2 linked regions of the Homo sapiens genome follow. The protein of the gene in region 1 interacts with the protein of each later gene in a pairwise test. Each region holds a gene or a part of one and is shown in the gene's direction. Other genes may lie near its edges.

Region 1 (3,200 bases):
CCTTATTAGCTCCCCTTCAATGGACACATGGGTAGTCAGGGTGCAGGTCTCAGAACTGTCCTTCAGGTTCCAGGTGATCAACCAAGTGCCTTGTCTGTAGTGTCAACTCATTGCTGCCCCTTCCTAGTAATCCCCATAATTTAGCTCTCCATTTCATAGTCTTTCCTTGGGTGTGTTAAAAGTGACCATGGTACACTCAGCACGGATGAAATGAAACAGTGTTTAGAAACGTCAGTCTTCTCTTTTGTAATGCCCTGTAGTCTCTCTGTATGTTATATGTCACATTTTGTAATTAACAGCTTGCTGGTGAAAAGGACCCCACGAAGTGTTGGATATAAGCCAGACTGTAAGTGAATTACTTTTTTTGTCAATCATTTAACCATCTTTAACCTAAAAGAGTTTTATGTGAAATGGCTTATAATTGCTTAGAGAATATTTGTAGAGAGGCACATTTGCCAGTATTAGATTTAAAAGTGATGTTTTCTTTATCTAAATGATGAATTATGATTCTTTTTAGTTGTTGGATTTGAAATTCCAGACAAGTTTGTTGTAGGATATGCCCTTGACTATAATGAATACTTCAGGGATTTGAATGTAAGTAATTGCTTCTTTTTCTCACTCATTTTTCAAAACACGCATAAAAATTTAGGAAAGAGAATTGTTTTCTCCTTCCAGCACCTCATAATTTGAACAGACTGATGGTTCCCATTAGTCACATAAAGCTGTAGTCTAGTACAGACGTCCTTAGAACTGGAACCTGGCCAGGCTAGGGTGACACTTCTTGTTGGCTGAAATAGTTGAACAGCTTTAATATACAATAATTGTTGCATTATTATTTCAGATGATAAATGTGGTCATAAGTAAGAAATAAATGATCGAGTTTAGTCTTTTAATTCACTGTCCTTTGAATACCTGCCTCTTACTCTGGAGGCAGAAGTCCCATGGATGTGTTTATGAACATGGTTGAGGAAGATTTAGGAAGACTGCAACAGTACACTACCTAAAGCAGGTTTTTTACTCCATCTTTTTTTGCCACGTACACTGGCCTCCCACTTTGATATGCTTGAAATTATCTCCTTGATTTGTCTTTCAAAACTACATATTGAGGCTGGTTGCGGTGGCTCACACCTGTAATCCTAGCACTTTGGGAGGCCAAGCCGGACAGATCACTTGAGGTCAGGAGTTCGAGACCAGCCTGGCAAACATGATGAAACCCCACCTTTACTAAAAATACAAAAATTAGCCAGGCGTAGTGGTGTGTGCCTGTAACCCAGCTACCTGGGAGGCTGAGGCAGGAGAATCACTGGAACCCGGGAGGCAGAGGCTACAGTGAGCCAACATCACGCCACTGCACTCCAGCCTGGGTGACAGAGCAAGACTCTGTCTCAAAACAAAACAAAAAACAAAAAACTACGTATTAAGACAAGAAACAGACTGGGCGCGGTGGCTCACGCCTGTAATCCCAGCACTTTGGGAGGCTGAGGCGGGCGGATCACAAGGTCAGGAGATCGAGACCATCCTGGCTAACACGGTGAAACCCCGTCTCTACTAAAAAATAGAAAAAATTAGCTGGGGTGGTGGCGGGCGCCTATAGTCTCAGCTACTCGGGAGGCTGAGGCAGGAGAATGGCGTGAACCCGGGAGGCAGAGCTTGCAGTGAGCAGAGATCGTGCCACTGCACTCCAGTCTGGGTGACAGAGCAAGACTCCGTCTCAAAAAAAAAAACAAAAACAAGAAACAAATTAAACTAATGTGATAGACTACTGCTTTGTTTTCAAAAGATACACTCCCCAAAAGTTACTGATCTAAAATACAGTAGTACTATCTCTGTTTAGTAAGAACCCTGACAACTAATAGTGTTCTTATATGTAAAATGCTATTCTTGCCTTTCATTTCAGAATATACTTTTTAAATGTGAATTTCTGGATTTTTTTTTATAGCATGTTTGTGTCATTAGTGAAACTGGAAAAGCAAAATACAAAGCCTAAGATGAGAGTTCAAGTTGAGTTTGGAAACATCTGGAGTCCTATTGACATCGCCAGTAAAATTATCAATGTTCTAGTTCTGTGGCCATCTGCTTAGTAGAGCTTTTTGCATGTATCTTCTAAGAATTTTATCTGTTTTGTACTTTAGAAATGTCAGTTGCTGCATTCCTAAACTGTTTATTTGCACTATGAGCCTATAGACTATCAGTTCCCTTTGGGCGGATTGTTGTTTAACTTGTAAATGAAAAAATTCTCTTAAACCACAGCACTATTGAGTGAAACATTGAACTCATATCTGTAAGAAATAAAGAGAAGATATATTAGTTTTTTAATTGGTATTTTAATTTTTATATATGCAGGAAAGAATAGAAGTGATTGAATATTGTTAATTATACCACCGTGTGTTAGAAAAGTAAGAAGCAGTCAATTTTCACATCAAAGACAGCATCTAAGAAGTTTTGTTCTGTCCTGGAATTATTTTAGTAGTGTTTCAGTAATGTTGACTGTATTTTCCAACTTGTTCAAATTATTACCAGTGAATCTTTGTCAGCAGTTCCCTTTTAAATGCAAATCAATAAATTCCCAAAAATTTAACTGCTTTATGAATTCAATTTAAAAATCCTTAAAATAAGTCCTGTCTCTTTAAAAAAACCTATGCATAGTTATCATTTCTCTACAAATTAACCTAGTTTAGTTTTCTGTTGGTTCCATTTTCCTTGTTTGTTAAGTTTTAGTAGCTAGTTTAATTGTAATCTCAATGATTATGTGGTAGAATGGGTTGGCGGAGCTACAAAAATTCCTAGCTACTTCAGAGACATTAAATTTCAGACACATGGTACACTTTATATTACATTTTACTATGCTAAAATAACACGGCTTTCTTTTGGAATTCTGTTCAGTTTTTCAGATTGTAATCTCAGCTACATCTCAACAGATTGTTCTCAGATATGTCCTATTACCTTCTTTGTGTAGATAGTGCTTTATTGACTAAGAACAATGACAACAACACCTTTTGTTTTCTGGGAATAGGAGAAAAGTTTTAAGCCAAAACTCTTAATTGCTTATCTGCTCCACGTGAGGTATGAACTATCAAACTTAGGAGCCATCTAGCTTACACGTGTTCCTTAAAAAGTTTGCTGTAGGCCGGGCACAGTGGCTCGTACCTGTAGTCCCAGCACTTTTGGGAGCCCAGGGTGGGGGATCACTTGAGCTCAGG
Region 2 (4,012 bases), on another chromosome or scaffold:
AGAGTCTGGCTTTGTATTGCCCAGGCTGGAGTGCAGTGGTGCCATCTCGGCCCACTGCAACCTCCCACCTCCCAGGTTCAAGCTATCCTCCCATCTCAGCCTCCTGAGTAGCTGGGACTACAGGCACGTGCTACCACACCTGGCTATTTTTTGTATTGTTTGTAGAGTTGAGGTTTCGCCATGTTGGCCAGGCTGGTCTTGAACTCCTGACCTCAAGTGATCTGCCGCCTCAGCCTCCCAAAGTGTTAGGAATACGGGCGTGAGCTACTGCGCCCAACCCCATTTTTGTTTAAAAACTAATAATAATCACCCACACATGGTTATGAGTACCTATATTCCCAACTCCTCAGGAGGCTGACGCGGGAGGATGGCTTAAGCCCAGGAGTTTGTGGCCACCTTGAGCAACATAGCGAGACTTCATCTCAAAACAAAATTTATCACAATAATCATTTTCACATAAGTATACCTATAGGGGAAAACCTAGAATATACATATAGCAGTCTTGTCCAACTTGCGGCCCAACGCAAATCTGTAAACTTTCTTCAAACAGTACGAGGTTTTTTTGTGATTTTTTTTCTTTTAGCTCATCAGGTATTGCTAGTGTTAGTGTATTTTATGCGTGGCCCAAGGCGATTCTTCTTCTTCCAGTGTGGCACAGGGAGGCCAAAAGATTGGACATCCCTGATATACACATTAACAGGTGCCATCCTTGGATGGCAGGATTATAGAGATTTCTACACATTCATGTCTGTACTACTTCATTCTTATAAATACGCATTTTCCACTCGTAACAAAAAACTGTGATTGAAAATCGTCCCGGGTCACAGTGTCTCACGCCTGTAATCCCAACACTGTAAGAGGCTGAGGCTTTGGGAGGCTGAGGTGAGCAGATCACGGGAGGTCGAGTTCAAGACCAGCCTGGCCCACATGGTGAAACCCCATCTCTACTAAAAACACAAAAATTAGCCAGGCGTGGTGGTGCACGCCTATAGTCAAAGCTACTCGGGAGACTGAGGCAGGAGAATCACTTGAACCTGGGAGGCGTTGCAGTGAGCTGAGATTGTGCCACTGCACTCCAGCCTGGGGAACAGAGTAAAACTTCGTCTAAAAACAAATAATAAAAGAGGCTGAGGCAGGAGCATCACTTGAGGCCATGCGTTCAGGACCCCATCTCTACAAAATAAAAAAATTACTGGCATGGTGGCACGCACCTGTCATCCCAGCTACTCAGGAAGTGGGAGGATTGCTAGAGCCCAGGAGTCGAGGCTGTAGTGAGCAATGACTGTGCCACTGCACTCCAGCCTGGGTGACAGAACAAGATCATATCTCAAAACAAAAAAAAAGAATCATTCTGGCTAACGGCTCTTCAGACATCTGTGCTTATGAGAACAGCAGCCCCTTCTAAGCTGTGTGTGTGTGTGGGTGTGTGTGTGGTGCGTGTGGTTTTTTTTTTTTTTTTTTGAGACTTAGTCTCACCCTGTCACTCAGGCTGGAGTGCAGTGGCACAATCTCAGCTCACTGCAACCTCCACCTCCTGGGTTCAAGCAATTCTCCCACCTCAGCCTCCCAAGTAGCTGGGATTACAGGCACTCGCCATCATGCCTGGCTAATTTCTGTATTTTTGTAGAGATGGGATTTCACCATGTTGGCCAGGCTGGTCTCGAACTCCTGACCTCAAGTGATCCGCCCGCCTTGGCCTCCCAAAGTGTTGGGATTACAGGCATGAGCCACTGTGCCCGGCCGCTTTCTAAGCTTTGTGAAGAGTGGGTTGACTATTCAGATCTCTGCTTCTGTCCCGCTGTGCCAAGTGCTGGGGCAGACACAGGCAGAGAGTGGACAGCGGCACGGTGCCTGCTGCTAGCCATTTCTATGCAAAACCAGCTTTCTGGTCCCATCCTGGAGGCCAATTCTAGGCACCTGGGTGGGCCTGGGAACCTGTGAACCAAGTAAACTGACTTGGACACCCCCCTACCCCGCCAGGCCTGTCCTAGCAGCCCCACACAATACCCTCATGTCCTGTCCCCAAACACCGCCATCCTCAAACACATGTGCTCTGTTTCCAGGCCGGGCCGGGATCAGATGGGAAGTGGAACCTCGTCATGAGCAGAAACTGTTTCCCTACGAAGAGCACTTGGAGATGGCAATGCTGAATCTCACCCTGTAGGACTCACACACGACTCCAACGGGATTGTGAGAATCAAGTCACTCTCATGGGAAGAATTTTTATATGGGAAAGCGGATAAAACTTTCATTGGACTGGAATGTTTGGAGAATGTTAATTTCCAAATCAGGAACCACAAACTGCCCTCTAATAAGACATCGGCTATCTAAGCGTGTGGGTGCCCCCTTTCTGCCAGCAGTTCTGGTTCTTAAGAAAATCACCATAAATCAGACATGAAAATTCTGGCTCCAAAAATAGCATTTTCTTTGTGCAAATAAAAACGTGTGTATCAAGTATGATGTTCCCCCAACGTGGACACACTCAGTTCCTCACAAAGCCAAGCCCACTGCAGCTGCCACATCCCTGGGCTTACGGTGCAGCAGGTGCTTTTTTCAAGACAGGAATCAAAATGTTAGGAACACGGCAGAAAGGGGACACCTGGAGACCAAACGCAGGATGAGGAGTTCTGCAGAGGTCACAGGGAAGTCACAGAACAGTAATACGCTAGCAGGGGCATGGGGCGTGAAGAACAGAAGAAGAGAGGAAGCGTTTCCAAGCCTCCAGAGAAGAAATCAAGGCCAACCAAAGCTTCCCGGGTCACAGAACCAATTCTTTTACCAGGCAGTACCACTGCTGTCATTTCAGCTTCTGGCCACTGGGAGGTGCTGCTCGAAAGGGTTTGCCCTGAGACTCCAAGAAGAAGCTGCGGGAAGGACAGCAGGGGTCCTGGGGTTTTAGCCTCTGGCCCAGGAGTTATGTGTCCATAACCAAAGGGAGCACAGTCTGCACCCAGCTCTCATCCCATCGGAGCTGCTGCGACTCCCGCAGGTTCTTCCGGAACTGGTTTAGCTTGCCCGCAGGATCAGGAAAGTTTGAGAAAAGCATCTGCAAAAAAATAAAGAGCAGAGCTTACCTCATTGCCTGTCCCCACCCCATCCCAGGTCACCACCTGGCTGACCCCAGGTCCCCGACCCAACAACAACCCCTCCCAAGTCCCTAACTCCCTCACTTGGACTCGAGACCCTTCACACCCCAGCAGCACTCCGCCTCCAACTTGACATCACAGTTTCTGGAAACTTCCCCGCATGTCCCACTTTCCCACACTTGGTGCCCTGGAGCACCTCCCGGCCTCTACGTGCTGCCCATTCCCCTGTGAGCACCCTCCTCTCGGCCTCTGGCCAACGCAGTCTCACCCATCTGTGGGTAACAAGGGGGTGTCGGTGTTCTTTGCAGCCTTGCTAAACTGTCTGAATCAAGGATCACAAACTACAGCCTGCAGGCCAAATCCAGCCCACAGCCTGTGTTTGTAAATAAAGTTTTATTGGAACAAAGCCACACCCCTTAATCTACAGATGATCTGTGGCTACTTTCACACCCCAACAGAGTACCATGGTTCTGACAGAGACTGGGGAACCCAGTCTAAACGACTTCCGACCTGGACCTTTACTGAAAATCCTGCCAATCATTCTGTTGGCAAGAATGATGTATTACTTTTTGCAATAAGAAACAAGTAACCTTTGCAGAATTCCACCCATCTTTCAAGGCTGGTCCCAGAAGCTCCCTTTGCCCGCCCACCTACGTGATCCTGATCACTTCCTCAACCGCAGCCCGGCCCACCCAGCTCCAGCATCATTTGTGGAGTGTCAGCTCCATAAATCCAGAGGGCAGGTGGGGGTGTGTCTTAACTTTCCCGAGCCTACTGTACCGAAACGGGACAGCAGAGTGGGCCAGCCTCTGTGACCTCTGCTCCCTCCCTAGCTTTTCCGCCAGACCCCACATGGTCCCACCCTGGCTGTGGGAAGCAGGGATCAGGGAGCCTGGCTCGGTGCCAGTCTCCAGAACCCTCCCCAC

The links.
Region 2: the proteins of HPRT1 (region 1) and EEF2KMT interact in binary tests that used the Homo sapiens proteins (3 or more experiments, as listed by UniProt).

The regions. Positions count from the first base shown.
Region 1 is NC_000023.11:134,498,091-134,501,290, forward strand, and holds the end of HPRT1 (hypoxanthine-guanine phosphoribosyltransferase), read left to right. Parts: intron 1-299; coding exon 300-346; intron 347-517; coding exon 518-594; intron 595-1,939; coding exon 1,940-1,987; 3' UTR 1,988-2,578; downstream 2,579-3,200. UniProt on the Homo sapiens protein: Converts guanine to guanosine monophosphate, and hypoxanthine to inosine monophosphate. Transfers the 5-phosphoribosyl group from 5-phosphoribosylpyrophosphate onto the purine.
Region 2 is NC_000016.10:5,083,784-5,087,795, reverse strand, and holds the end of EEF2KMT (protein-lysine N-methyltransferase EEF2KMT), read left to right. Parts: intron 1-416; exon of another isoform or gene 417-2,063; coding exon 2,064-2,164; 3' UTR 2,165-2,914; coding exon of another isoform or gene 2,915-3,046; 3' UTR 3,047-3,512; downstream 3,513-4,012. Other genes in the region: ALG1 (chitobiosyldiphosphodolichol beta-mannosyltransferase), read right to left, coding at 2,915-3,046. UniProt on the Homo sapiens protein: Catalyzes the trimethylation of eukaryotic elongation factor 2 (EEF2) on 'Lys-525'.